Regions from separate parts of the Homo sapiens genome. Here regions 1 and 3 are each linked to region 2. The links come from fine-mapping of genetic effects on gene expression. A gene starts in region 2. Each other region holds a variant in brackets. All regions are shown on one strand. Distances are between the middles of the regions.

What was found. PIP is the estimated chance that this variant, and not a neighbour inherited with it, causes the effect. A credible set is the group of variants that fine-mapping cannot tell apart.
Region 1: its variant is the best candidate, but not a certain one, in a credible set for the expression of ANKS6 in lung (TOPMed, PIP 0.70).
Region 3: its variant is the best candidate, but not a certain one, in a credible set for the expression of ANKS6 in whole blood (TOPMed, PIP 0.88).

Annotation. Positions count from the first base shown.
Region 1 is chr9:98,539,742-98,549,989 of GRCh38, forward strand. It overlaps GABBR2 (gamma-aminobutyric acid type B receptor subunit 2), which reads right to left. Exons shown (of 19, transcript NM_005458.8): 3 at 2,132-2,302. Among named protein-coding and RNA genes, the nearest start is that of GABBR2, 160 kb to the right of the region's middle. The variant C/A (reference allele first, on the strand shown) is at 4,423.
Region 2 is chr9:98,791,559-98,801,806 of GRCh38, forward strand. It overlaps ANKS6 (ankyrin repeat and sterile alpha motif domain containing 6), which reads right to left and starts at 4,997. Exons shown (of 15, transcript NM_173551.5): 1 at 4,575-4,997. The coding sequence starts at 4,933. LOC124902229 (a long non-coding RNA gene) reads right to left here. Exons shown (of 2, transcript XR_007061689.1): 2 at 6,890-8,051. RefSeq lists enhancers at 4,260-4,760, 4,761-5,261 and a silencer at 4,520-5,139.
Region 3 is chr9:98,479,713-98,489,960 of GRCh38, forward strand. It overlaps GABBR2 (gamma-aminobutyric acid type B receptor subunit 2), which reads right to left. Exons shown (of 19, transcript NM_005458.8): 5 at 1,220-1,285. Among named protein-coding and RNA genes, the nearest start is that of GABBR2, 220 kb to the right of the region's middle. The variant G/T (reference allele first, on the strand shown) is at 3,737.

The DNA of each region.
Region 1 (10,248 bases), 250 kb before region 2:
CCCGTCTCTACTAAAAATACATAAATTAGCTGGGTGTGGTGGCACGTGCCTGTAGTCCCAGCTACTCGGGAGGCTGAGGCAGGAGAATTGCTTGAACCCAGGAGGCAGAGGTTGCAATGAGCCGAGATTGCGCCAGTGCACTCCAGCCTGGTGACAGAGTGAGACTTCGTCTAAAAAAAAAAAAAAAAAAAGAAAAAGAAAAGAAAAAGGAAAAAGCAAGTCTCTCTAAATCCTAGTAGAGTCCAGTGTTAATGGGGCCATGGGATGGGTCCTTCTTATCCTCCACCATCCACTTGTTTCACTCTCATTTTAGAACATTTCTCGCTTCTCTATGAAGGCGGCCTTTCAGCAAAAGCCTCTTCAGCGTTTGGCAATGAGTCACTCCCGCTGGAGGTCAAGTTCCCTTTGTGCCTCCTCCTAGGGGCTGAGAAACAGAGAGGTGGGAAGATGACGAGCAGTCTTGCCTGGGAAAAGCTTGCCTTGTTTGGATACCCACAGACAGTGGGGCCAAACACTTCCACTTTTCACGCACCTCCAAAAACAACCCTCTCTGTGTATGAACTTTACAGTTTACGAAGCTCTTTCAGATCCATTACTCATTGGATTTTGGCAGAAGCCCTGCAGGGAGGCATGCAAGAAGTTATTGTCCCCATTTTACAGGGGAGGAATCGAAGCTCAGAGAAGCAAGGTAACGTCTCCAAGGTCACACAGCCAATGTATGAAGTGGTCTCTCCTTCCCATGGAAGAGACAGGGGGCAAGAACCTCAGAAGGTAAGTGCAGAGCTGCAGTGGAAACCAGGTCTGCTGATTACCAGCCCTGTTCTACTCCCAACTTTCTTGCCACCCTGCCCGGCCTTTCCCCATTCCCAGGCTGGCAAGAGGCTGTGTGTCTGCCCCCACCGCTCCGGCTGAGGTCTGTCTAGACCCCTGACTCACACATGGAAATCCTCCACACGGCTAAAGTTTGTTTCTCTTGGGCTGCTAAGAACACTTGGTTTGTCTTGTGTTTTTGGAGGCTCCAAGTATCAAAAGCACACATGGGAATAGAAAGGAGAGGAGGAGGCACAAAGCAAATGGGAAAAAAGACAGGAGGCCATTTTGTACTCATCTGAGTGAGGCTAATGTTTCAAATATTTGTTAATATCCACTGTTAGTAAGGATATGTGAAAATGGGAATTTTCAAATGCTGTTGGTGGGACTAGAAATTAGAACTGCCTTTTTGGAAGTCAGTCCTTCTCAAATTTTTAAATGGCCCAGCAAATCCACTTCTAGAAGTCTACTGCCAAGACGCACACCTAGCCATGAGAGTATGGTTGTCCCATTGAAAAGTGGTCAACGTTCAGAGGGGCTGGCTCGGTAAGTTACGATATACCCATCTGACAGAACACCAGGTCCCTTTAAACCATGAGGTTAATCAAGACCTCTAAGATCTGTTGTAAAGTGAAAAAAGAAACATACATGATATGAAGTCATTTGGCTTTAAAACAAATACATTGAAAAAGTTCTAGGCAGATGAACCCCTAAGTGAAAGCAGGAGTTAACTTTCAGAGAGAAAGCATGATTCAGGTGGCTTAGGACAAAGCAACACTTTTACATTTTTTACTACCCATATTTTGGCTTTTTTTTCCCCCACAACAAAACACATACACAAAACAAAAAAATTGCCTACCATATATTAAGGTGTGTTTGTAAGTCACTTAGAACAAACAAAACTCTGTACCCCATCCAAGGTGACATTGGCATCTTCGGTCCAAGCCAGCCCTTCCCCAAAACTCTCCTCACAGATGAACACACCCCCTGGTAGAACTTTGTGATCTTAGATGGTCACGACAGCATCAGTAACAAAGACAAGCCCACAGGGCCACTGAGGGAATAAGCCACACGAGGTAGCCAATAAAAAGAATGAAAGGGAAGGTTCACTCCTGATGATGGTTTCCACCAGTCCTATGCACAGTGAAATTCCTCAGCTACCAGCTCTATTTTGTCAACGGTGAAACAGCTTTGATCGCACTAACCAACACATGCTTAAAAGCCCTGTGACAGTACCCATCCCTGACTAAACCACATTGCCTTTTGCTAGATGACAGCAGCAAGCAGTAAGGCAGGCCGTGTCCACACAAGCCGAGCGTACCTCAGAGAACCTCTGAACGTCTTGCGTCAGCGTGCCCACGCGCTTCCACTGGTAGTGCTTGAGCAACTTCAGAATGGCTGGATTCACCGCATTGTCTGATGGGACGGTCCGAAAGAAATAAGGGTATTTTTTCTTATCGGCTAGAACAGGCGTGGTTGCAGCAAAAGAAAGCTGAAAAACACAAAAGAGACAACGCTTTTTACTGATGAGCCTCACAGCTGTGACCCAGCATCTTTCCTACTGGAATAGAGACTGTTAGCTTCAACTTAGAGCATAAACACACAGGGACAGATATTTTTAAAACTTTTTTATTGTAAGAGTAACATATCATAATGGAAGGGAAGGTTTAAAAATGCAAAATAAGGAGGAAGAAGGGAAAAAATAGCCAATGATCTACCCCTCCCTAAAGAACCATCATTCATGTTATCGTCTATTCCTTCCCAGTCCTTTTTCTATGCAGTGATTGAATTTTTTAAAAAAGATCCTGAAATCATTCTACATGCACAATTGAACTGTTTTTCCCCATTTAACGGTATCCTTAAAAACTCTTCGTAAACCTTATAATAGCTGCACAATATTCCAGCATATGAATATACCATAAATTTACTGAATCGTTTCTAATTTGGGGTTATTTCGATTATTTCTAATTTGTCATTATCATCATATTATTCTACAGGCATCTTTGTACATAGCATTTTTGTTTTATATTTTGGGATGTTTCCATAAGATAGAGTCTGTGATGTAAAATTTTCCAGATAAAGAATATGAGTCTTTAAAGATTTATACTTATTTCCAAAAAACATTTTATCGGTTTGCAAATTTAGTAGCCAGGAATGATTAGAGGGCCAGTCTCACCACATCTTTGCCAACACAGGGAGTAAAAAATGTTATTCTGTCTAATTTTATAATGATTTATCACCAAATAAAACCCTGAATCATATCGCATTCATGGTTATAGATAATGCTGAACTTTTCCCTATGGTTATTAACTAGTAGCATATCCTATTTTAGGAGTTACTTTTTCATGTCCTTTGTTTATTTTTTGAGTGGTATTCTAATGCTTTTCAGATTGAATTTAATGAAGATATTTTATATATATAGCGTTCAAACTCAGGCTATTATAGTTGCTGCAAATATCTCAGTTTGCCTTTACATTTTATGTGTGTGTATTTTAATTTACACTCGATAGTCAAAGCTGTCCATCGTTCTCTTTATTATTTCTTCTTTTTCTTTTAAGTGCCAGTTAAGTTGTTAAGTTGGATTTTAATTGTCTGTTCCTGAAGGCCCAACCTAAATGCCACCCCTTCCATAACACTTCCTCTGATCTCTGTTCCTTCCCTCAGCCTCAGCCACAGAAGGTAGTTATCAAAGTTTTTGATCTTTGCAGTATGATGGTGAAAAGATGTTATCTGGTTATAGTTCTAATTTGCATTTTTCTTAGAGTGAGTGAAGTTGAATATTTCTATTTTGTTATATTAATTTTATTTATATATATATTTATTTATTATTTAGAGACAGGGTCCATTCTGTTGCCCAGACTGGAGTACAATGCTGCTATCATAGCTCACTGCAGCCTGGAACTCCTGGGTTCCAGCGATCCCCACCTGCCTTAGTCTCCGGGGTAGCTGGGACTATAGGTGTATGCCTCTATGCCTAGCTAATTTAAAAATCTGTCAGAGAAGGGGCCTCACTATGTTGCCTAGTCTGGTTTTGAACCCCTGGGCTCAAGCCTCTGGCCTCAGCCTCCTGAGTCACTGTGACTACAGGTGTGCTATCGCACCCAGCTTCTTCCTATGTGTAAAAGTAATTGGTAGTTCCTTTCTGGAAACTGTTCACATTTTTTGCTTGTTTTCTAATTTGACTAGTAGTCTTCCTTATCAGTTTATAGAAATGATCTTTTATATTAAGAAAATTAGCCCTTTATGATATAAGTTGCTAATTTTTCTCCCAGTTTGTACTTTGTTTCTTGATGTTGTTTATAGTGCCGTTTCCAGGTAATCACGGTTTTTTTTAATGAGGATGAATTTATCAGTTTTTTTCCTTTATGACTTCAGGTTTTATGTCATATTTAAGAAAGGCCTCTCTTACTCTGAGATTATAAAATAATTTCTCCATGGTTTCTTCTAGTCTGTCTGTCCTCCCTCCTTCCCTCCCTCCCTCCCTCCTTCTCTTCTTTTGTTTCATTCAAATCTTTGATCCAGAGAGGGCATGGATGAAGCAAGCTCAATCTTTGCTGCCACCAGCCATCTCCCCAAACCCTTGCTTGTCCCAGCAGCAGCTCTGGATTTGAT[C/A]CATCCTAGGTTCCAATTTAAGCATCCAGGGAAATAACATCCTGGTACCCTCAGCCTCCAGCTAAAGTTGCTTTACCGCTTCTTCTGTCACCCTAGAACCACGTTCCCCTTACAAAAGTTTGTGGGGGGCAGTAGAGATTTGTCCCTTTCCATGTCTGTTTCAGAGGGTAGACAGCCACTCTCTAGAATTGCTGGATCTCCTATCTATTGGAGCTGACCACACAACAGTAATTCAGCCATTACCTGAAGCTACAGAGCCCCCGTAGAAACCATCTTCTAAGATCCAACAGAGAGACACCCCAAGACCGGTAAAGGTCAAAGGTAGAATGACTTTTGTCAGTGTTCAAAGATTCTTGGTAGACGAGGACTAATGAGAGGGAAATTTCAACTGGACACATTGAGGAACATTCACATCAGAGTTGTCTGGCCTTGGAAAACCTGCCATCAGAAGTAGTGAGATCCCTGTGTCTGGAGGTGTGCAAGCAAAGACTGGACCACAACCTAGTGAGAACAGAAGGGCTTCAAAGTGTCTGTGAACCCCCTGAAAACTGTAGGAAAGGATTTGCATGGCCATGTATGTGCAGACAGACATGCACATTTTTCTGAAAAAAAGAATCAGTGGCTTCCATCATATTCACAAAGAGGATCATTCCAACCAAATCAAGGTCTGCACACCTGCCTTCAGTTGACATTTAGGTCCCGTAGTGAGTGCGGGAAATAAAGCTCTCTATAGTCCCCTCAAACCTACTGTCTGTGATTCTTCTCACAAGATTAAAAACACTGCAAGCCTCCTATGCTCACCAGTGGGAGAAGGAGCTATTAGAAAAACCTGGGAGGAACTATTTCAGGACAGGGACATTATATATACCATCACATCCCCAAAAATCCTTATCTAATACAATTTGGAAAATATTGGCTTTCTGATGTGATTTCTTAATCACACTCTGGTTGCTACTTTACCATTATTGTCCCATTAGTTCCAGGTCCACAATTAATTGTTGCTTGAACAACCTCATGTTTTCCCTGTGGGTAATTACCGTGGTTACTGTTCAGTGAATAAATGGCCCATTGGGTTTACAATAGGCTTGGAGTACAATATGTGCCCCGGGTCTAAATCATGTTGGGTGCAAAATATTAACTGGCACTGACATTTTCTGCACCATTTGAGATAATGCACGCTTTGATTAGATTGCTTTGCGTCACTGTTTCTCTGGCTTTACTCTGGCTTTAGCCTCCTGAAACTTTCTTCCATGGGCAAAAACTGCAGGTGCCCAGTAGCACTGCTGGACTTCAAAACTAACAGACATCTGAGAAATCATCTAGCTCTGGGGTTCTTGGCACACTGGAGTTATTTGGGGGAGATTTTAAAGAATACTGATGACTTGGTCCCACTCCAAACGAACTGAATCAGAATCTCTGGGCATCTAGCCCAAGCATCAGTATTATTTAAAAATTTTCCAGGTGATTATGATGCTCAGTGAGGGTTGAGGACCACAGATACAGCTCCACACCCCTGGTTTGGAATAAGTAGACTGCAGCCCCGAAATAAGATATCAAAATTCCACTACAGCTAATAAGAGGTAGAAGCAGGACTTGAACCCGGGTCTATAGGACCCTAACACTAGTGCGCTTTCTCCCATGGATGACTATCTACCTGCCTCCTACATGCTCCCCAGGCCTTCTTCCCCTAGCACAGTCACCCAGCATCTGGCATCACCAGGGCTGTTAGCATTAGGGCCCTAACTTGGAGACCAAGCTTTCTGAGCTCTCCTGCCTTGTTTCGCATAACCAAGTTTGTTTCTGAACAGATTGTGATTGAGGCTTTGAGTTAATTCCTAGCCAAGGATTTATTTCGGAGAGTATTTTAAAATTTAATTTCTAGTTTTCTTATAATTTCTAGTTTTATTGCATTATTTTGAGAATTTGGCAAGTGCAGTGTCTGCTTTTGGAATTTATTGAGATTTTCTTTGTGGCCTATTATACAATCAACTTCTGTACAAGTTCCATGGTGGCTGGAAAAAAGATGAAATCTATAGTCATAAGCTATAGAATTCTTTATTAGACTACTTATGCATAATAGATATAACCAAACTAATTATATTATCATACGCTTTGTATTTTTGTTTACTTGATCTATCAAAGGCTGAGAAGTTTGTTAAACTTTTTTCTATTGTCTCTGACCATTTCTTCATGTATTTCAACTGTTTTTGCTTTTTATGTGTTCATTTTATCTTGTTTTGAGCATAAATGTTCATCACAATTATGTCTTCATTTTTCAGCAATATATACTTTTGCCTAGTGCAAATAACAGGCACTTAATAGATATTCATTGAGCGAGTGAAGATTGAAATATTTATCAAGATAAAATAAACCTGTTTGTCATTTTATTGCTTTTTGTTTGATACTGTATCACGCTTGTTATTAATACTGCAACCCTTACTGTATTTTTGCTTGCATTTGCCTGTCACTTTTTTATCCTCCTTTTATTCATATTCTATTAAGATTGTTTTTAAATACACATCTTGAAAAGAGCATATGGACAGATTTTAAAATATGTATGTTTATTGCTGTAGTAAATATTTGGCCTTGCATTTATCATCTCATTGGCCATCTCTTCTTTTTTAATGCTTCCCTTTTTTTGTTTCCTTTTGTTCCCGCTGGTTTTCAACTTTGTATCTATTCTTCTCTATTCTGGCTATGTGAATTAATCTTGCCTCAGGTCTCAGCCCGCTGGAGTACTTTTTAATAGGTACCTTGAGAAGGATAAAGGGTTGACAACTTACTGAGGATGGCCCTGTGTTGCACTGACACACGGCAGAATTTGGCTGGGCATGAAATTCTTGGGCTACCATTTCTCCCCTTTGAAACTACAAAGTGATGCAGAGGAGAAATTTGGGGCTGGCTTGATTGTCACTGATTGTCGTTCATTTGTAGGTACCCAGTTTCCTCTACCTGGAAGCCTGAAAGATTTTTTTTCCCCTTATTCCTGGAATTCAAAAAAATCGCACTCTTGATTTTATTTGGGATAAAGAGAGCCCTATACACGACCTGTATACAATCCATACACTCAAGTATTTCCAACTCAGTAAAAAAAAACCTAATATATATATATAAAATGACTATGCTATATTTATATTGTGTATATTGTTTTATATTTATATTTTTATAATATATTTAACATATTTATTACATATACATTTATAATATTGTATATATTATACATAATAAATATAGCATATGTAGTATGTTTATCATATATATATTTATATTATATTCCTATATATTCTTGTCTCTCCTCTGGGCCACAGGATTATCTGTATGTTGTCTCCTCATTCTCTAAATCCATATCTGTCCTATTTTCTTTTCATAATTGCATCTCTTAGTCCTTGTCCTCCTCAATCTAGAAGAGCATCTTATTTTACTGTATTTTATTACAAGGTATGTGCATATTAGCTTTCACTATTTTCTGGTAAAATGGCTGTACCCACAGCCCTAGCTGTAGGACATAAGTATTCTCATTTCTTCACATCCTGGCCAGTATTTGATATTATCTGACTTCCTAATTTTTGTTAGTCTTTCAGAGATAAAGTGGTACTTCATTATTGTTTGATTTTGCAGTGCTTTGCCTGGAATGTGGCTGAGTGGTGATACATAGACATGTTAGCTATTCGGGTTCTTTGTTCTGTGAGTTGCCTGACTTGCTTTTCAACAGCCTCAGTTTTAAGCCTTATTGACTTTAACATATTTGTATTGTGTTATTGACATTTTTAGTTTCCTATGAATTTTTCATGATCATCTCCCTTTTCGCCCCATCCTCCAATTGCAGGCTATTTCATGGAGCCTGCTTTGCTGCATATGATTGGGGAGGCTACACATCTTTCTAAAGTTTTCTTCTTTATCCTACAATAGATCATTTTCAGAGATGGACTCTTCCTCCACTTCTTCTGAGTACTCTGCTTTTTTTCATTATTTTTGAAGTACTTTTTCAAAGGTGTTTTAAATTTATTAATCCTCAAAAGCAAAGCAAGTGTTTTCAGGCTGGGCTTATCAAGAGACACATGTGGACGGCACTTGGCCCTGTTTTCTATTTACGTTTTAATTGCATATACTTCTCAGAAGGCCGGAGAATAAGTATTTAAGCACAGTTTTTGGTGTCTAGTAGGCTTTCACCTTAGGCTGGTCTACATTAAATAAGTGACATCATCTTTTACCCTCAGTGCCCAATTTTCTAATACTCTAGATCAACACAGTACATTAAATTCCCTTCCTGCACTGCTGCTAGGGTTTTTCTTTCCTGCCTAAAAAATTTCATGTGGGAAGTCTCTGCTTCCCAGAATGCAATTCACATCTAGTGTGCTCCCCTCCTCTTCTCATCCAGGTTTTTTTTCCCCCTAGGAATGTATAGCTCTGTCTGAGTTTAGTGAAAGAGAGATGAGAATAAAGAGAAAAAAGCAATTTGGTTGTCTCAGAGATCAGCAACTGTTAGGTAGAGGCAATAGCTATCCAATTTTCTAGTTGATATGAGTCCTGAGTCTAACTCAGATTGTAGGGGAGAAAGGAAAAGGTCTACCTGTTAATTTTCAACACAATTGTTATTTTATGAGGCAAGGTTTGGAATGCTAGGAAGCAAAGCTTAGGATTTTCTCAATCTAGAGCCATCTACTTTGTAATTAATGAAGCTTCTAAACATCTAGAATATCAATGAGTATTGGGGTCTCTTGGTTCCTTGAGAGTGTATGTATGTGTATGTTTTTTTGTTTGTTTATTTGTTTGGTTGGTTGGTTTTCTTTGAGATGGAGTCCTGCTCTATCGCCCAGGCTGGAGTGCAGTGGTGCAATCTCAGGTCACTGCAACCTCCGCCTCCCGATTGTTCAAGCGATTCTCCTGCCTCAGCCTCCCAAGCAGTGATTACAGGCACCCACCACCATGCCCAGCTAATTTCTTTTTGTTTTGGGATTTTTAGTAAAGATGGGGGTTTCACCATGTTGGACAGGCTGGTCTTGCGCTCCTGACCTCAGGTGATCCACCTGCTTTGGCCTCCCAAAGTGCTGGGATTACAGGCGTGAGCCACTGTGCCTGGCTTCTTTTCCATGTTTTGATAGTTTCAAAGGAAAGCTAAAAAAATGTTTTATTGGGTACCAAATGTTTTATTGAGTAGCCAAATACCCTTTTTTTTCATTTTTGGTTTATGCCATTTATTTATTTAGTAAACCATATGTTCTCAAATATTGCAAAAATAAAGTTCAAGTCAGTTTAGTAAAAGTATTAGAAAAATCACGAATAAATTTAGTCTGACTTAACCAAATATGTGGCAGGGCCTGGCACCCTCTTTCACGTTGTTCAGATGCCATTTAAACCACAAGGTGGTGTGAAGGTTTTTAAGGTTCATGATTGGTACCATCAAACTGCTCTCTAATGTGGTGGTGCTGCCATGCCCCTGGGGGCTGGTGGATAAGACTGCCCAGCTCATCCCATACTGGCCAGCTCTGGGCACTGAATGGGGTTTTTGCCCACCGCCCTGCTTGCCCCAGTCTGTAGCCAGGCTAAACCTGGATCACCAGCATTCTCTTTGTTTTGAGCAGTTGCCCAGGGAGTCTTGAGCACATCCTGGCCCACAGAAGATCCTTAAATAGCATCTCATTCTTTCACTCCCACCCCAGGAAGTGACCTGAGTGCTTCTGATAATGATGGCATCCAGGTACTACCCAATCTACGACCAGACCACAGGGCCTGATGGCTCCCCTGAACTATCCATGGCCACCTGGCCAGAGGAGTGGCAAAATCCTCCAGAATCTTGGTGTCAAGGACCAAGTTCACAAAGAATTA
Region 2 (10,248 bases):
CTCGGAGCTGTGTATCTCCAAGCTGGAAGCGGCCCTGGACTAACAAGAAAACAATGACAAGACAGGGGCTGTCTACTCCAGGTTTTCGAGACCACAAAGCCACTGTCATGTCTGCATCTGTGAGGCAGCTTTCTGGGTTTCTCGATGCTCAGCCCTCCTTCCCGGGAGCCAGTTTTGCACCTCATCTAAACCCAAGACCTCCCTCCTCCTGGCGGCTGGCGGCCAGGCCAGGGCTGAACTCTGTCTGAGGCTCCGGCTGAATACCTTCTGGGATGTGAACCTGAACAGCATGGGGCTACTCAGCCACGAAGCAAGAGCCTGGTGACACAGCTCCATCAGCTGCAGGGGGCTGGGCCTCTTGACCTCCACTCCCAGAGTGGAAAAGGACAAGGCAAATTGAAACCAACTCAATGCAGAAAGCTGCACCCCAATGTCTCCCCGCCTCCAGTCTCGTTCCCTCCTGCCCATCCTCCATGCGACTCCCAAATGATATTCTCCAAACCCAAATCTGTCACTCCCCAGCTTCTGATTGCCGAAGACCTGACTGCTTTGCCAACCTCACTTCCTCCTGCTCCCAAACCACACCTTCCCGCCTTCCCCACACCTTCACCATCCTGACCCCACCAGAGGACTCTCCTGTCCTCATCTACTCAGCACACCCCCACCGTGTCCTGCTTCAGGAGTCATATCTCACCCACTCTGAGCAGCTTCCAGACCACCCCTCAACCAGGCTAGGTCAGTGCCCCTCTTCTGAGCACCTAATTCCACGGGCTCGCCTCTGGCTGCACGTGAGCCCTCTTTCCCTAATTGTCTCTCCTATTCAGTGGCAGGCTCTCCAAGGACAGGACAGGGTTCCACGCATATTGTTTCCCCAGCCCCTACCATAGTGGCTGATCCACATCGGAGCTCAGTAAATTTGGTCAAACAAGCCAAGTAAATGAATGCATAAATGGCATAACCACATAGGGGAAGGTCCAGAGGTGAGCAGTGGAAATCCCTGAAGAACTGGTGTATCCTCCACTGTAGTACATTTCTAAAAGATTACACTATTTAGTTATCAAGCATGAGATAAAATCTAGCATAATCCCTAACAGCAGATTACAAGGTGCGTCACATTTTTATCTCATTTGATCTTAATAAACCCCGAGATAAACTCACAGATTAGGAAACTGAAGATTACAGTGGAAAGCAATTAATCTAAAGCCTCTCAATTTGAACGTGATAGAGTCAAAAGTTGCACCTGGACTCAAAATCGAAGCTCCAGTATAACCAATTTTTAAGGAGGAAGAAAAGGGGTGAATTAGAGCAGAAATAGTGAAATTTGGAATGTTTTCTGAATTAGTGAGTAGCCCAAGAGAGCACTCAACTATGCTGAAAATATAAAAGGATCCAAGCAAGGCTGAGATAATGTTGTGGATGCTAAGTTTCTAATAGGTAACTGCCGGAGATGGGCATGCTAGGGGCTTTCTGAACAGGTGCTGTGATTACTGATGAATTTCAGCAATTAACACCTGTGTTTAAAGAGCTGGCACACATTTTCCCCTCTCAAAGCACTGGGCTGAGAGTCCAGCTCTGCCCCACTGGCAGGCAGGAAATGAAGGGTAGGGAAGGAAGGTAAACACTATGCAACCCTGTCCCTTGGAGAGAAGTCTCTGGCAAATTTGGCAAGCCGCTTCCAGGCACCAACACCAAGAGGGAAACTATCAGTTACAGGATTCATGGCTGGGAGCACAGGCTCTGGAGCCACCTCCCTAGGTGTGAATCTGACTCGCCACTTGGTAGCTATGTTACTTGAGCAAGTTATTTAACTTCTCTGTTCCTCAATTCCTCATTTATGAAATGAGGATGACAATAGTACCTCCTTCCTAAGGTTTTGTATGGATTGAATGACTTAATTCATTTAAAGCACTTAGCACAGTGCTTGACAGAAAGTCAGTGCTCAATAAAGGTTGTTTTTTGTTTTGTTTTGTTCTGGTTTTTTGAGATGGAGTCTCGCTCTGTCGCCAGGCTGGAGTGCAGTGGCGCGATCTCAGCTTACTGCAACCTCCGCCTCCCAGGTTCAAGCGATTCTCCTGCCTCAGCCTCCCGAGTAGCTGGGACTACAGGTGCGTGCCACCATGCCCGTGCCACCACGCCCAGCTAATTTTTGTATTTTTAGTAGAGACAGGGTTTCACTATGTTGGCCAGGCTGGTCTCGATCTCCTGACCTCCTGATCTGCCCGCCTCGGCCTCCCAAAGTGCTGGGATTACAGGCGTGAGCCACCGCACCTGGCCAAAGGTTACCTATTATTTTAAGAACATGAAAAAACATGCCCCAGCGCGGTGGCTCACGCCTGTAATCGCAGCACTTTGGGAGGCCGAGGTGGGCGTTTCACGAAATCAGGAGATTGAGACCAGCCTGGCCAACACAGTGAAACCCGGTCTCTACTAAAAATACAAAAAGTAGCTGGGCGTGGTGGCACGTGACTGTAATCCCAGCTACTCCGGAGGCTGAGACAGGAGAATCGCTTGAACCCAGGAGGCGGAGGTTGCAGTGAGTCGAGATCACGCCACTGCACTCCAGCCTGGTGACAGAGCGAGACTCCGTCTCAAAAAAAAAAAAAAAAAGAACAGGAAAAAACACTAAGGTCACCATTTCTAATACTAAAACACCCACAAAAGACCAAAGGCACAGGGTGTCTAATAGTCTGGCCTGATCCACACAGAGAGCTGGGACGATAAATAGATGCTTGCTCAGACCCAGCGTGGTGGCTGCCAGGGGTGTGGTTTTGAGCAGGATTCTGGGGGCGTATCCAGATCCAAGGAAGAAGAGCACAAGGCTGGAAGGTGTCAGCACACAGGCCATTCATTTGCCTACCCCGATGTGAGGGACAGACACACTGTACATCCTTCTGGAAGTCTTCCATATATACTACTCCTCAACTTGACCTTTTCTTATGAATTACGCAGCAGAAAGCTGGAGCACAACTCAACACAGGCAGAGATGCTACCTGAATATAGAGTCGGTGTCACACCAACTGAGGAACAGCACATTTTAAAATACCCAGGCTCAAGACTATCCTGCAGAACTTGGTTAAAACTGATGATCTGGGGTCTCTGAGACACTCTGAGGCATGTCAGTGCTGTAGTCACAAACCTCACTCAGTAAATTCCTCAGGGGGCTCACCAGGGCCCCTGTGCACGCACTTGGTGGATTGCAGAGATGAGACACACATAACACATCAGTGGCTCCCAAACCTACCATACAAGAGAATCACTGGGGAGCCTCTTCTCACACAGAGTCCCTGTCTCTTACTCCCCTCACTGCCCTGGGCCTTCTAAATCACAATCTCCAGAAAAGGAACTCAGGAATCTGCACTTAGACAAGCATCCTGGTGATTCTGATGTGTGGCCAGGTTTGGGTACTGAGGAAGCCAGTCAGCATTAACATGGTGTGATGGATGCTACCACAGAGGCCTTTCTGCTGCGGAGGGACCAGAGAACAGGGAGATATCATGGCAGGCTTCACAGAAGCCAGATCTCTAGATGCCATCCTTGCTGTCTCTCTTAACCCCTCCCCAAGGGCCAGTCGTCAACTCCTGCTGATCTACTCCCTGAATATATCACAAATTCATCTGGGTGCCCTCCCTCCGCTGTCTCCATTCTGGTCTAGGCCACCATCACCTCTCACTCAGACTGCAGCAAACTCTACCTAACCAGCCTTTTTGACTCTAGCTTACCCTAGAGTATCTAATCTATTCTCACACTTCAAGGAAAGTAATTTTTCCAAAACGTAACTCTCATCCTGTCACTCATTCTGCCTAGAACCTTCCATGACTCCCTAGCACCTTCCATGACTCCCTAGCACCCTAGGATAGCTAGCGTTTCTCAGCTCCCACACTCCCCCAACTCCCTGGCATCTGCCTTCTCTCCAGGGAGGACTAGTACATCATTCTACTCATACATTCTACGCATACCTCATTCTACCAGTCCTACCAGCTCGTGCACCCAAGCCTTTGCATGGGCCTCCCATCATGCCTTCCCACAGCCCACTTGTAATGTCCTGGCTAATTCTCAGGTATCCGCAGGTCTCCACGTGGATATAAACATCTTTTCTACCAGAAACCTTCCCCCACGTCTCCAAAATGGGTCACCTGCCCCACAGCTACTCAAACCTTTCCGGTCAAGCTCGTTCCTTTGCCTGGCCTGCCCACCAATGCCCTGGGTGGGGACTCTGCCTGGGTCTCGCAGCACCCTCAACGCCAAGCCAGGAAGGGAAGGCAGGTTCTGAGGAAACTCTTACTGCAATAAGAAATGAATTAAATCTCTAAGGTTCTAAGTCTCTACAATTCTATTCGCTGTCTCCAGATTCTATTCTGAAAGGCCAAAATTTCTAAGAATCTGATTTTATGTTAATTCAAAAGTGTTTCCACGTCTATGCTCAAAGTTTACAAAAGACTACTCAAAGTTTACCATTCCAACTCTAAGGAGTCCTTAACTCTTCACCTCCCGGGGCATCCGGCCGCCGGGGACCGCGTCTCGGGCCAGCGCCGGGCACCACTCTGGTCCCGGGCCCCCGGGCCCCGCCGCCTCACCTGGCCGCCTGCATGAGCGCGCTCCAGCCGTAGTGGTTGCGGCTGTTGACCGAGGCACCGCGGCGCAGCAGGAAGCGCACCAGCGGTTCGTGGCCCCCGGCCGCGGCGAACTGCAGTGCGGTGTTGCCCGCCTCGTCCGAGCAATCCACGGGCACCGGAGCCCCGACTGCCCCCGCCGCTGCGGCCCCGGGCCCGGCCACCTCGGCCCCCGCCGGCTCCGCGCCCGCCTCCGGCTCCGCGCCGCGCTCGGCTGGCTCCGCCGCCCCCGGCTCCAGCAGCCGCCGCGCCGTCTCCGTGTCGCCCTGGTCACACGCGCGCAGCAGCAGCTGGAAGGCCGGGGGCAGCCCGCCCTCGCCCATCGCCGCCGCCACGCGCGGCCCGCTCCCGTCCGCCCCGCCGGCCGCGTCGGCTCCGCCCCCGGATACCGCCCGCAGGCGCCCCCTTCCGGCCACCCGCCCGCGCCGCGCGCCTACTGTGTGCCGGGAGCGCGCCGGGGCTAGGGCCGCGCGCCTGCTGTGTGCCGGGAGCGCGCTAGGGCCGGGGCTGCGCACCTCCAGTGCCCGTATTCGGGAGTCCAGGGACGCTCAGAGGAGCGCCCGCCGCAGACCCGCGTGTTCCCTTTTGCCTCTTCGGCGCCCTCTCGCCGCCCTGTCCCGGGGCTCCAGAAACTTCCTGTCAGGGCAGAGGTGGGAGCGGCCACGCCATCCCCTCTTCACGCTGTGGTCAGGGCCCTGGGCCCGGGTCTGAGTCCGCAGCTGCGTGGGCCTTGACTTTACTAGCGGGCTCCGCTGACCCCACCGCAGCCCCTGGCACTGAACCTGCCCTTCTAGAATAAGGAAGCGGCTGAATTAAGGAACGAACGGATTGTTTCCTCACAGTGTCCTGCGGTGCCCTTAATGTCGCTCCTTCATCTGGGCCAGGCTGCTGGGGCTAAAAGCGCCTCCTGTTCTCTCTCTCTCCCCCACCTTTTATTTCAACTATTATTATAGATTAAAGGGTACAGGTTTGTTACATGGGTAAATTGTTACATGGGTAAATTGCGCGACGCTGAAGCTTGTGGTCCCAACGATCCCGTCACCCAGGCAGTAAGCATAATACCCACCAAGAGGTTCTTCAGCCCAGAGTCCCCTCCATCCCTCCCTGGCCTAGCGATCCCCAGCGTTTGTTGTTCCCATCTTTGTGTCCATGTGTACTCAATGTTTAGCTCCCACTTATAAGTGAGAACATGCAGTATTTGGTTTTCTGTTCTTTTTAGGTCGCTTAGGATAATGGCCTCCAGCTTTATCCATGTTGCTGCAAAGGGCATGATTTCGTTCATTCTTATGGCTGCATAGTATTCCGTAGTATTCCATCATATTCTATCGTGTATATGCACCACATTTCTTTCATTCCTTCCCTCTCTTCCCTCCCTCCCTCCCTATCCCCCTTCCTTCCTCCCTCCCTCCCTCCCTTTCTCCCTCTCTCTCTCTCTCTCTCTCTCTCTTTTGACAGGGTCTTGCTCTGTCATCCAGGCTGGAGTGCAATGGTGCAATCTCTACTCACCACAACCTCTGCCTCCCAGGCTCAAGCAATCCTCCCACCTCAGCCTACCGAGTAGCTAGGACTGCAGGCAAGTGCCACCACACCCGGCTAATTTTTTGTATTTTTGGTTGAGAAAGGGTTTTACCATGTTGTCCGGCTGGTCTCAAAGTCCTGAGCTCAAGTGATTCACCTGCTGTGGCCTCCCAAAGTGCCAGGATTACAGGTGTGAGCCATCACATCTGGCTCTGTACCACATGTTCTTTATCCAATCTACTGTTGATGGGCACTTAGGTTGATTCCATACCCTTGCTATTGTAAATGGCACTGCAATGAATATACAGGTGTCTTTTTGATAGAATGAATTATTTTCCTTTGGGTATATACCTGGTAGTAGGTTTGCTGGGTCAAATAGTTCTATTTTAAGTTCTTTGAGAAATCTCCAAACTGCTTTCCACGGTGGCTGAACTAGTTTGCATTCCCACCAACAGTGTATTTTCTCCACAGCCTTAGCAGCACCTATTGTTTTTTGACTTTTTAATAATTGACATTCTGACTGGTGTAGATGATATCTCATTGTGGTTTTGATTTGCATTTCTCTGATGATTAATGATGTTGCGCATTTGTTTCATATGTTTGTTGGCTGCCTGTATGTCTTCTTTTGAGAAGTGTCTGTTCATGCCCTTTGCAGAGACACAACGAAAAAAAGAAAACTTCAGGCCAATATTCCTGAAAAACATAGCTGCAAAAATCCTCAATGACATACTACAAACAGAATCCAGCAGCACATCAAAAAGTCAATTCACCATGATCAAGTAGGCTTTATTTCTGGAATGCAAGGTTGGCTCAACATGCGCAAATCAATACATGTGATTCACCATATAAACAGAATCAAAAACAAAAACCATATAATCATCTCAATAGATGCAGAAAAGGCCTTCAATAAAATCCAACATCCCTTTATAATAAAAATCTTCAAAACAGATTAGGCATTGAAGGAACATACCTCAAAATAATAACAGCCATCTATGACAAACCCATAGCCAACATCATATTAAACAGGCAAAAGCTGGAAGAAGACTCTCACCACTCCTATTCAACATAGTACTGGAAGTCCTAGCCAGACAACCAGGTAAGAGAAAGAAATAAAAGGCATTCAAATAGGAAAAGAAAAAGTCGAACACTCTGTCTTTGCGGAGAGTATGAATCTATACATAGAAAACCCTACAGAGTTTGCCAAAAGGCTCCTGGAAATGATAAACAAATTCAGTAAAGTTTCAGGACAGAAAATCAATGTATAAAAAGCAATAGCAGTTTGATATGCCAATAACATTCTAGCTGAGAACAAAATTAAGAACACAACCTCATTTACAATGGTCACAAAGAAAATGAAATACCTTCTCTCTCTTTATCAGCGGTCCTTGAAGTGTGTCCCACACAGCAGTAGCACCATCACCAGCTGCAACACTGTTACAAACGCAGATTTTTCTGGCCCTACCCAAGATCTACTGAATCAGAAATTCTGGGTGTGGGTTCAGCAACCTATATTTTAACAAGCCCTCTGGGTGATTCTGATGCATGCTAAAGTTGGAGACCCACGTTTGATCTTCATTGCACGCCTGCCATCCACCGGGGAGGGCCCAGATGATCATCCCTAGGTTGCAGAGGAGGCAACCGAGGCACAAAGAGGTTGTGTCTTGCCAAAGACTCCACAACTATTCTGCAGGAGAGCTGTGAGTAGGACTCAGGTCTTCTGACATCGAGTCCAACTCTCTTTCCATTTTCAACAAATATGTATTGAGTGCCTGCCATTTCCAGACACTGTTTTAGGTGCTGGAAAAGCTGCAGGATTTAGTACAAGGTTCTTCTGTAGCTCACAGATCCATGAGAGCCTGAGAACCAGTTCTGGAGGCCCCAAAGCCAGGAACAATGACCCAAATCTCATGCCGCAGCTGCACCCTGTAGGAAGATGGGGTTGGTTCAGGCCCTTTTTGGTGTTCCTGGCTTCAGATTCAGAGGCTGAGGTGACAGTGCCTGACTGGCCCAACTTGGGTCATGTGCTCATATAATAGCGGGAGGTAGTTTCTGCTTCAGAAGGTAGGGCACTCCCAAATGTAGGAAGGGGGTTCAGATGCTGGGCAGTCAAAAACGATAACAAGTGTTTGCTATGAAATATTCCCTCTGGACACCCTTTTTCTTTTGGGAAGCCTTTCTTCCCTACTCACAGTCTGTGTGCTTCAGTGGTTAGCACATATCCTGATTGGCTTCAGCCCAGGACTTTTTTTTTTTTGAGACGGAGTCCCACTCTCTCTCCCAGGCTGAGGTTCAGCGGCACAATTGCACCCCACAAACTGCAACCTCTGTCTCCTGGGTTCAAGTGATTCTCTGCGTTAGCCTCCCGAGTAGCTGGGATTACAGGCACCCACCACCATGCCCGGCTAATTTTTGTATTTTTAGTAGGTACGGGGTTTCACCACGTTGTCCAGGCTGGCCTCAAACTCCTGACCTCAAGTGATCTTCCTCCCTCAGCCTCCCAAAGTGCTGGGATTACAGGCATGAGCCACTGTGCCCAGCCCAGCCCAGGATTTTTGCTAAAGCAATTGAGAATGAGGCCCTCTCTGCTGAGGTTGCCAGCTATCAGGATGTCAGCCAAACTGGTGCTCACTTTGCCACCACTTGAAGACAGCCTGCCTAAGAGTGAAGTCACCACAAAAGAAAGCAAAACCAAGTGATAGAAAGAGACTAAGTTAGAAAATCCCTCCCCACATTCTTTTTGGTGAGGTTTATTTTGAGCAGCATTGTTGTCACTTGCATTCCAAGCCTTAACAAATGGATAATTTACTTTTTTTGTAAATGAATGGGTTCATACTACGCATGCTATTCTTGAATCTTGCTTTTTTTTTTCTTTTTCCATTAACAAATGTCTTGGGCACCTTTCCATGTAGGTAAATACAGACTGCTGCATTTTAAAAAAATGATTGCGGCCCGGCGATGTGGCTCATACCTGTAATCAATCCTAGCACTTTGGGAGGCTGAGGCAGTCGGATTGCCTGAGCTCAGGAGTTTGAAACCAGCCTGGGCAACACGGTGAAACCCTGTCTCTACTAAAAATACAAAAAAATTAGCCAGGCATGGTGGCATGTGCCTGTAGTCCCAGCTACTTGGGAGGCTGAGGCAGAAGAATTGCTTGAACCTGGGAGGTGGAGGTTGCAGTGAGCCGAGATCACACCACTGCACTCCAGCCTGAGCGACAGAGCGAGACTCCATCTCCAAAAAAATTTTAATAAATAAATAAATGATAGCATGAAACACCATTCAGCAGACGTACCATAATTTATTTAATCATTTAATTTTTATTTCTATTTTATATTTTTTGAAATGGAGTCTCACTCTGTCATCCAGGCTAGAGTGCAGTGGTGCAATCTTGGCTCACTGAAACCTCTGCCTCCTGAGTTCAAGCGATTCTCCTGCCTTAGTCTATGGAGTAGCTGGGATCACAGATGCCCGCCACCACACCAAGCTAATTTTTGTATTTTTAGTAGAGACGGGGTTTTGCCATGTTGGCCAGGCTGGTCTTGAACTCCTGACCTCAAGTGATCCACCCGCCTCGGCCTCCCAAAGTGCTGGGATTACAGGCATGAACCACTGTTCCCAGCCCATTTAATCATTTTAGAATAAGGCACAGTTGAGGCCGAGTATGGCGGTTCATGCCTGTAATCCCAGCACTTTGGGAGGTTAAGGGGGGTGGATTGCTTGAGACCAGGAGTTCAAGACCAGCCTGGCCAACATGGTGAAATCCCATCTCTAATACAAAAAAAAATAGCCAGGTGTGGTGGCACATGCCTGTAATCCCAGCTACCTAGGTGGCCGAGGCACGAGAATCGCTTGAACCTGAGAGGCAGAGGTTACAGTGAGCTGAGACTGCACCACTGTACTCCAGCCTGGGTGACAGAGCAAGACTCTCAAACAAACAAACAAACAAACAAACAGAAACAAGCACAGTTAGCTTGTTTCCAGTTTTCTGCTCTTATAAAAAATACTGCATTGGACAGCGCTTGTAGCAGCCAGGGTCCCACCAGGAAACAGATGGCACACTTGGCTGAGGAGCTGGGGAATGCTTACTAAAGGACCATTTACAGAAGTATAGGCAGGATTT
Region 3 (10,248 bases), 310 kb before region 2:
CCAGCAAAGAGCAGAGGGACTACCCTGCCCTGGGTGTAGACATGCAATTTGAGGTCACCTCGGCTCTCTGGCACTGTGCTCATGCTGATGACCTTAGTTGCCAGACCCGGTAGTAAACTGGGGGTCATCTGGAACATCCAAAGTCCCTTCTCTTCTCAACACACAGTACTCCTCAGCTATCCCTCTACCACTTGGACTTAGGCAGCTTCATTTGTTCTAATATAATATGTTAGGACCATTTACTCTGCTTGGATTTAATCAAACATTCCAACCTGTTAAAGTTCTTTGCACTCAAACTCTGTCATCCAATGTATTTCATGATTTCTAGAATTCCTATTTATAACCTCATCCACATTACTGACAAAAAGATCAGAGATCTGCGGCCCGTCACCAGACACTACGCCTAGAATGACCTCAGTCTAAAAGGTGAAGCTTATTGGGCAGACAGTGACTCACCTGCCTGGGCTTTCATTTTGTTGACTTTTCTCCTGACATGATGGGGAGGATTGGGAGCTGGGACATCAAAATGGAAACTGACTTAGTTCCTGTGTTCTGTCCCCTACATCTAACTTAAGCTAGAAGTCATATGGAGAAAACCTTTTTTTTTTAGAGACTAGATTGGGGATCAGGTTAATGGGGATGGAGCCTTGGCTCTGCCATGAATTGGCTGAGGGCCCTTGGACAAGTCCCTTTACTCTATGGAGCTCTATTTCCTCATCTGTAAAATGGGAAAATCATAGTTGCTTCACATGGTTATTGAAAAGATTAAATGAGATAAGGCATAAAAAGGTCACCTTTGTCATCTGTCACTAGACAGCTGTAAAGGATTCAGGAGGAGAAAATCAATAGTTGATAATTTGTCCCTAACCTAAGACTCTGAGCCCTACCTACAGGGCAGGGAGGGGGTCTGAGTCACTTCAGCCTCACCCTGATTTCTGGTATCTCCCTGGCTAAGTTGAGCAGACTTAGAATTAGCCAACAAGGCTTAGACTATGGGTTAGACTGAGGTCCCTGGTTCCTCGATGATGGTATTGTTCTGAGCCCTGGGGTTTTAGCTCCCTGGAAAGAGGAAAGAACAGTGAACGCAACTCTTCTGCTTCCAGGAACCCAGGCTCCAGTCCTGTGATCCCACTCACAGACTGAGCAGGGAGATAATGAGTATGGGAAAAAGCTTCGTGAACCTCCCCAAAGACACGAATGATACAACTGTTTTACTTACACAACAGAACACTTTTGCTGCCATATTCTGGTCAAACTGGCCAAGGATGATCCGCACATCATTCCCCTGTGGATGGAAGGACACATCATGAAGGTGAGTAGATGTTCAGCACCCCATAAAGGGTTCAAGGCTGTGGCAGACAACATTCCTTCACCTCTGGCTCTTAGCCCAGAGCTCTGCCTGGGAAGGTGGGCAGGGCAGAACCTCACCCCCAACCCCAGCCCAGCCTGGATTCTCTAGCCCTCTCCAGGGCTGGCTTTCCTGTGGCTCCTGCAGTCAGTCCACCCTGGTCTCATGGGCAAGCCCTAGGGCAAGTCTGTACAGGCTGGAGGCTAAAGCTGACTGCTCTCAGGGGCCTTGCAACCTCCCCTGTTCTCCTCCCACCAGGGCAGGCAAATCCTGCAGTCCATGGAAGCATCATCTAACTTTCTTCCACACTTTACATATAGGAAAACTGAGGCCAGATGAGGAGAAAGGAGCTTCTAAGGCCCCTGGGGAGTTTGTGGCAGAGACAAGACCCCAGCCAACCACACTCTGCTGCCCTGCACAGTGTTCTAGCCCTTTCTACCTTCCTGATAGTTAATCCCTCAAGAAATTCCTGGAGCCTACAGAGCTTCCCAATTAAGAGGTTTCAGACTTGCTTTGAGCTTTGTTCGCATCTCAGCTCTACCAACAAACCATGGGTGGCCTCTGGTCGCTCCTTTTCCATCTCAGCCCCAGTTTCCTCATCTGCAAAATGAGGATAATGGTAGTACGTTCCTTACCGGATTTCTGGGAAGACTAAGTGAAATAGTCCTTGTAAAGTGCTTAACACAGTGCCTAGCACATAGTGAGTGTCCACCTTTATTTCTAAGGAAAATCTATTTTTGAAAGCTCTATACATGGGATTACATTCATTATCTCAGTGTGGTTAATAGGAATGTGTACAGTGACCCCTGTGACTCATTCATTCATTCAACAGACAATTACTGAGCATCAGCCAGAGGCTCTCATGGGTCAGGTAAATGGGGTCTTTGTTGCTTTCTGGGGCATTGGGATCCAGCTGCGTCCTGTCCCATGGAGAAGAACAGGCTGAAAGAGAACGGGTGGGGCGGCCACCAGGAGACCAGCCAGGCCCTGGCCCAAACACCTGCTCCCCATCCCAGCCGCTTCCTGCCCTCCACAGTGAGGCCCAGCCTTGCAGGTGGTGCCACCTTCCTGCAGTTCATCCATCCCCTCCAGCAGGCCTCATGGCCCTTTGATGCATAAAGTAGAAAAATATGCTTTTAAAGATCAGTTTTTAGCATCTTTCAAAATTGGAAAGTGCTGACTGAGAGGCCATTTTACTCATCATGTACTTTAGCAAAATAAAGAAGGCCTGGATTCTAAAATCATCTTTCGTTTGCAAGCAAGAATGGAAAGAAGAGGGGAAAAAAAACACTGGCTCTGAAAGGACTTTAAAAGATCGTTAACAGAGCAGTGGAAGGAAGGCAAGCCTTTGTCATCACCACGTCTGCAATGCTATAAAAAGTTCTAAGCTGCTTCCGTTCTGTGGACTTGCTTCCAGGCATGCTCCAAGATCTTTCTGCTTGTTCGTTAAAAATTTTTAGCATTTTTTGCTGCTGACAGTACCCATGCATCCATCCATCCTTTCATCCAGCAAGTATCTATTGATCATCTACTTTGTGCCAAACCCTGTGTTGCTAAACATGGTATGGTAAAAACAGCTTATTAGATTTTGAAGTCAGAGACCTGGGTTCAAATCACAGCTCCACCTCTGATTAGCTGAAAACTTTGCTTCTTAATCTCCTGGAGCCTCAATTCCTTCATCTCTGAGAAAGGGATAATCCTATCTACCTTGCCCAGTGGTTGTCAATTCATCATAATGAAACTCACCCGGTGGCTTCCATGCTGCTCTCTGCTGGCTCCCCTCGTGCCTGCCTGGCCACTCCTGCTCATACTCCTCATCATCAGCTCCTGACCTTTCTGCCCATCCCTAAATGCTGGTGTTCTGTCCTTAGCTCTTTGCTCCCATCACTCTCCCTGGGCCACCTAGTTCATGACCCCAGCCACAACTGTTCTCTGTGTGCTGTGGACTCCAAATCTCTCCCCCCAGCCTCAGATTTTCTCCAGTTTCCCACCAGACTCTTCCAGTTGGATTCTCTCAGGCACCTCCAGCGCAACATGTCCCAAGCTGAATCCACCAGCTTTCCCAAGAGGCCCTTTCCTCCTCCTGTGTTTTCCATTTCTGACAATGTCAGGAACTTGGGAGTCATCTTAGACTCACTCCTCTTCTTCAACCCTCATCCAAGCCATAACTGGAATCTGTTGGTTCTGTCTGCTCACAACTAGCTCCTTAATCAGTCCCAACCCTCCAGCCCCACTGCCCTGAGTTTGGTTACCATCATTCCTTACTCAGTGAACAGCAACAGCCTCCCTGCACCCTTGCCATGAATCCTGCCCCATCCACCCATCGCCACAGAGCAGAGGAAGGGTTCATTCCTAGATTCAAGTCTGATTGTGTGAAATCTGTCCATG[G/T]CTTCCTGAGGTTTGCAGATCAAACACTGAGCTCCTTAGCACATTCAAGATGTGCTAAAGATAGAGATGGTAAAGATCCTATGCAGTCTTTACCAACTGACTTGTGCTCAATTCTCTATCACATTTCTCATACCCTGCCTTGGCAGTGAGTCCTAAAACAGGACTGCATTCATTCATTCATTTATTCATATTCCCACTTCGCCCCCCACCCATTCTGCAAGTCTATCCCTCCAGAGTGCCCTTCCCTCTCCTCCCACTTACTTTGCCCGCACAGCTGCTACTCACCCTTCCTACCTTAGCCCAGGCTCCTCTGTTCTGAGAAACCATCTCTCTGCCCCATCAGGCTTGGTGGCCACTTCTTCCTCTGTGAGCCTGGATCACCCTGTGCTTGCCTCCAATGTGGCTCAAGTCCACTTACTTGTCTGTCTTCCCCACTGAAGTAAGCGTAACTTGACTTATCTCTAAGTCCCCAGCTCCCAGAACAGGGCGCTACACATATGTCAACAAATATGTGTTGAATGCACGATGAAGTGAATTAATCCAGTGTGCAGCATCACGCACAATGCCTGGCCTACGCTGCTTATTTGGTCACTAGTAGCCATTATCATCACTGCACTAATATCTGACCAACCCCATGGTCTAGACCCTGGGCTCACCATGTCCACTTCTTGAGTAGATCGAGGGACCCACATCTTCATAGCTGACCTCCTGACCACCTGCTGACAGTTAAATAACCAGCTCTGCCACTTGTGAACCATTTGGTGTCTTTGTTGCTATGACAACCGAGTTGCAAGGACCACTTTGTTCAGTGCTCCCAGGCTGTTAGATTTGGATGGGGCCCGTGGGATCCCCCATCTAGCTAATCTCTTCCCAGAGAGGTACAAGCTCTCCCAGGGCTCCACAGAACCAAAATGAAAGCCAGAGCTCTCACTTTGGTTCTCCTTGACCATTAGAGGGCCCTGGAGACAGATCCTATGCAGAGCCAGGTCATGCCTGCTGCAGGAAGCTGTGAACACATACTCTGCTTCTAGACGGTGAGAAAGAGGGGGAAAGACGCTGCCAAGTCTGGAAGGAAGGAGGAGCAGCCCGGAATCCAGGGTTGGGGAGAGGCCAAACGGGGGATGAGGCTGGATGGGGATCTTGGGGGGCACCATAGAGCAGTATAAACAGTTTGAGGTGCTTCTCAAACTAGGGTATGTGCATTCTAGAGCACGAGGAGGTGTCCCGAGTGTAGGAAGTGCAGATATACTGCGTTCTCCTTTCTAAAGTAGCAACTTACTGGAAGATTCAGGGGTTAGGGGAAAGGTTTTGGATTTGGGGAATCTTAATAGTTTTTCCACACATGTGCATGCTCTCATGAAAGTTCCAGAATCATGCTTTTCAATGTTGCATAGCTTGTATCTTTTCCTGAAAGTCCAGAGAGTAGAAAGAAGAAATTTGGGAATAGCAGTAGCCCCTGCTTTCAGACAAGCCCCCTGCCTCCCTGCCAGGGTATGGGCCCATTCTCTTATGCTGAAAGGGCTTGGGGCAGTTTAGGCAGTAGTAGGGGGTAGGGAGGGGCAGCCATAACCATCCCTGAGGATGACAGTGACAGATCAGAGCTGTGATATCACAAAGGACTGGAAACGTGGCAGAGGGCAGGGTCTGGAAAATCCTGTGCCCTTCCAGGGACTTGGCTCTGCAGGGAGCTTCCTGGAGTGAAAGCAGATGACCTGAGTTGGGGCAAATGAGATGGCCAGGTCTAGGGTTGGAGACCATACATGGAGACCTATGTTCACACCCTCAAGAGGCTACTATCACAAGAAAGGGGCAAAAGTGGAAGGAAACAGCGGTGGGAATGGGGTAGGAAAATGGGGAGGGGTATTCAGCCCAAACCCCCAACAGTGACAGGATGAGTGAGGGAGAGGCCCACTAAACTCCCTCTGGAGAGGAGTCTAATGTTGCCAAACCCTGGGTAGCTTTCCTTTTCTTTTTCTTGACCCTGTCTCATCCCTCATCTAGAACCACTTTGTCTCTGGGATGCTTAAAGAGAGCTAAACACACATACACACACGCAGGCACACACACACACAGGCACGCACACACACTCACGCACGCACATGACACTTAGCAAGGATAACCCAATTCAAAGAACTAGCATGTACCCCCAGTTTGCAAGCAATCCTAACATCATAAAAATAACAACTCTCAAGCCCTTTCTGAGCTGTTGTGCTAAACAGTCCGTCAGCCCCACCCTGGGAGGTGGGCGCTGTTATTATGCTCACTTTGGAAAGATTCATGAGCAAAGCAAGGTCCAAAGAATTAAGCAAACTTCCCAGGTGCAGTCCCCTCCTTGGGGCTGGTACACCCGCCCGGCTGCAGTGAGGGTGGGCTGCTGACAGCTCACTCCCTTCTCTGGAGAACTGCCCTCAGCTAAGGGGAGCTTCCTGGCCATGGGAGCCACTCCATGCCCCACACCCCACAGAGAGCAACCAACAACTGACTCACATTGGTGGAAAACTCCGGCCCCCCTGCTGAAAGTTAGGATCAGCTCTGTGGTGCTGTCTGTGCTCCGGAGACCCCTGTGGGGCCAGGCTAAACTGGTATCCATCCAAGACAGAGCTCCTCCTGCCTCATCCTGCTTCCCTCCCCTTCTCCTGAGTACTTCCACAATAAATTACTTTCCCAAGCATCTCAGGCTCTGTTTGTAGGGACTTCAACCTAAGATGCCAGGTCACACAAATAGGAGGTGGTGGCACTGGCCTTGCCCCGGGTGGGTGTGGTCCCAGAGCCTGAGTGCTTGACTCCTCGCTCCTATCTACCGCCTCCCAGTTGAGGATGCAAACCCCACTGGGTCTGAGCTGCTGGAGCTCAGCACTCAATCTGCAGCAACAGCTAACTGAGAAAAGTCATGCAGATGTTGAAGTGAAAGGATATAAATGGCAAATGCAATCCTGAGCCACTGAAATTGCTGGTGTGCATTTAAGAGTGCAGGACAGCAGAGGTGAGGAAGATGAGGGACCACGCCCTCCAGCCAGCCTTCCTTGCCTGTGGAGCATGGACTCTTGCAAGGAAGGTCAAGCTCGACCCTGAGCCTGACCCTGACCTCTGGGTTGTCTGGAATCTCCTGCCACCCATGCATCTGTCTAGGTCCACTCAATGGCATCCTGGTTTCTCAGAGCCTAGCCTCGCAGACTACCTACTGTGCTGGGCTGCTGAAAATTCAAATGTCACAATGCTATATAAAGAGAGGAGATGCTATAAACCCCTAAGGCAGCTGAGCTGTTAGAGGCTGGCCATGACCTGGGCCAGCGGGCACTGCCTAAGGCTTCGGAAGCCCAGGCCAGTCCTGTGCCCCAACTGTCTGGCTGTAGACTTGGAGTGGGCCCTAGAAGTTCAGCCTAGAATGTTCTCCAAAGTCCCTCCTGGCTCTGACAAACTGATCCCATACCCACAATGAGTAGTCCCTTTTATTTAGCTAAAATTTGTCTTACTTAGACCCCACCCCCCACTGGAAATGTCCATAAAGGCAGAGAAGCATATGCTTCACTCTGTCCGTAAAGGCAGTGAAGGCATACGCTTCACTCTCAAGGAAGGGAGCGAAGAGGGAATAGCCCACAGCAGCCCAGTGGAAAGCATGGCATTTCTTTAAAGTTTATTCTTGTATCTTGAAAATTCATGTATATTTAACACTCTAATAATATATCTATGTCGTAAGTTAAAAATAATACCTTTTCGTCTCCATGTCTCTGAGCAAACCTGGCCTGTGAGAAAGATGCACCATGTGTATTCTGCAGCTTTGCGTCCCCTTGGGGTGCCTGTATGAACTTCAGTTTCAGGCAGTCAGGATGGACTCCTGGCCTGTGGGAGTGGCAGTTCTCATCAGGTCTCTCCTATCTGGTTGGGAAAAAAGGGGGTCAATTCCCTAAGGACTTTTTTTTGGCCAGAGTCAAGAGGGAGAGCACAGTTCCCACTAGGACTTTACCATGGAGCAAGGGAAGGGCAGTCCTCTCAAAGCCTACCTTTGTAGTTGTCTTATGCCAGGCAGAATAATAGCCACATCCTGGCTGGGCTCAGTGGCTCATGCCTGTAATCCCAGCACATTAGGAGGCCAAGGCAGGAGAATCACTTGAGCTCAGGAGTTCAAGACCAGTCTGGGAAACGTGGAGAAACCCTGTCTCTACAAATATATATATATATATAGGCTGAGTATGGTGGTGCATGCCTGTAGTCCCAGTTACTTGGGAGGCTGAGGTGGGAGGATTGCTTGAGCCCAGGAAGTTGAGGCTGCAGTGAGCTGTGATTACACCACTACACTCCAGCCTGGGTTACAGAGTGAGACCCTGTCCCCACTCCCCCAGTCCCCCAAAAAAGGCCACATCCTAATCCCCAGAACCTGTGAGTACGTTATGTCACGTGGTAAAGGGAAAATTCACATTCCAGATGGAATTAAGGTTGTTTATCAGCTGATCTTAAAATAGGGAGATTTTCTTGGATTAGCCAGGTGATAATGTATTCACAGGGTCCTTAAATGTATTCATGTATTCACAAGGTCCTTAAACATGGCCGAGGCAGAGACAGTGATACAGTGTGGGAAAGGCTCCACTGACTATGGCTCACTTTGAAGATAGAGGAAGGGGATGCCAGCTGAGGGATGCAGGTGGCCTCTAGATACTGGAACTAGAGCCTCCAGAAGGAACTTGGCCGCACTGACACCTTGATGTTGGCCTGTCAAGATCCATGTAGGACATCTGGCTTCCAGACAGTAAGATAAATTTGTGTTGCTTGAAGCTGTTCAGATTTTCACAGCAGCAATGGGAAATGAAGACACTTCCCTCTCTGGAAAGGCCTTACCTTGGGCTTATCCTGTCTCCCTCCTCTCTCTGCTGGGGTTCTAGGACACTCAGTTGTTGCTGACTAGTCGAGTAGCTTTTCTGGTCAAAGCTGTCCCCTTAATGTGAGGCATAAGGATCCCCACTAATATTGTTGGAGAATTGGGCTATTTTTGTGAGTCACTCAAAAAAGAAAGCCAAACATGGCTCTAAATGGCACAGACATATTTTCTTTTCCTTTTTTAAGAGTAGAAAGCCTGGCTCAATTTAGAGGGTCTTCATGATGTTGCACTGGGGCCCAAATATTGCATCAATATAAAAAATAAAGATGAGAGCTTTCTGCTTATCTCTGTCTTTCTGTCATTCCCTAGCACTTTTTTTTTTAACCGCTCCTCCACTTAAGGCAAGTAAGTTGCAAAGCCCTTTCATTCCTGTTTTGTTACTAAGAAGAAATGGGGGGAGACAGGTCATTTAAAAATGTTGGGTATGAGTAACCTTGGAATGTTGAGAGGCTATGCTGACTGAGGAGTGTGGGTGGACACGAAGCTGGGAGGCATGCCGTGGAGGTTAAGAGCCAGTCTGTAGCTAGACTGCTGAGCTAGAATCTCAGCTCAGTCACTTAATCAGCTTCATGGCCTCAGGCAAGTTATTAAACTTTCGTGAGCTTCAGTTTCTCTACCTATAAAATGGGGATAATAATAGTACCTATCTTCAGAGCAGGTGGTGGCAAACAATTTCTATAAAGGTCCAGATAGTAAATATTTTTGGTCTCATAGGCCATATAGTCTCTGTTGCAATTACTCAGTTCTGCCGCTGTAGCACAAAAGCAGCCAAGGACGTTGTGGTAAATGAATGTGTTCCTATAAAACTTTATTTACAAACACAGAGAGTAGGCCGGATTTGGCCCATGAGCTGTAGTTTGCTGACTGCTATTGTAGAGTTATTGTGGGGATGAAGTGAATTCATGAATCTGTGGGCACAAAGGGAGTGCTTAAAAGTGTCCTCCTTTGATGTTGAAGCAGAAGCGTTGGATGAGGTCAGAAGAAGAGGCTGTGATAAGATGGAGAGAGAGAAGAGGAGCCCTCTGGAAAGAGGTGGCTGCTGGCACAGCGCTGACGCAGGCAAGCAAGGCTCTTGACTCCTCTGGTAAATTCACCTGCAATAGGGAAGCTCTGTGGGCCCAGAGACCCTAAATGAATTGCTCACAATCTTTCAGCTTTGCTTACTGTCTCAAAGTTTGGATTTTAGAAAGTCCTTTGTTATCATTTTAAGATATTCATTAAAAGATAGAGAGTTCCATGGCTTCTTTCCCTGAAATTCTCTAATTTTATTATTTAGTGTTTTATTATTTAGTCTTTTCTCTATTCCAGCATCTCTCAAGTTTCGAACGTAATATCAACTACTGATTTTTCAGCCCCCGAGAGAGCCCAACAGTCTGCCTACGGCGACCATCACACAATTGGGATGGCCCAGTGCCCTCTCTACAGAGGAAGACACCAAGGCAGGGACGGAGTCCAACCCCGGGTCTACTTGATTCAAAAGCCCCTGTTATGCTTGGCACAGGTGGCTCACGCCTGTAATCCAGCACTTTGGGAGGTCAAGGCGGACGGATCACCTAAGGTCAGGAGTTTGAGACCAGCCTGGCCAACATGGTAAAACACCATCTCTACTAAAAATACAAAAATTAGCCAGGCTTGGTGG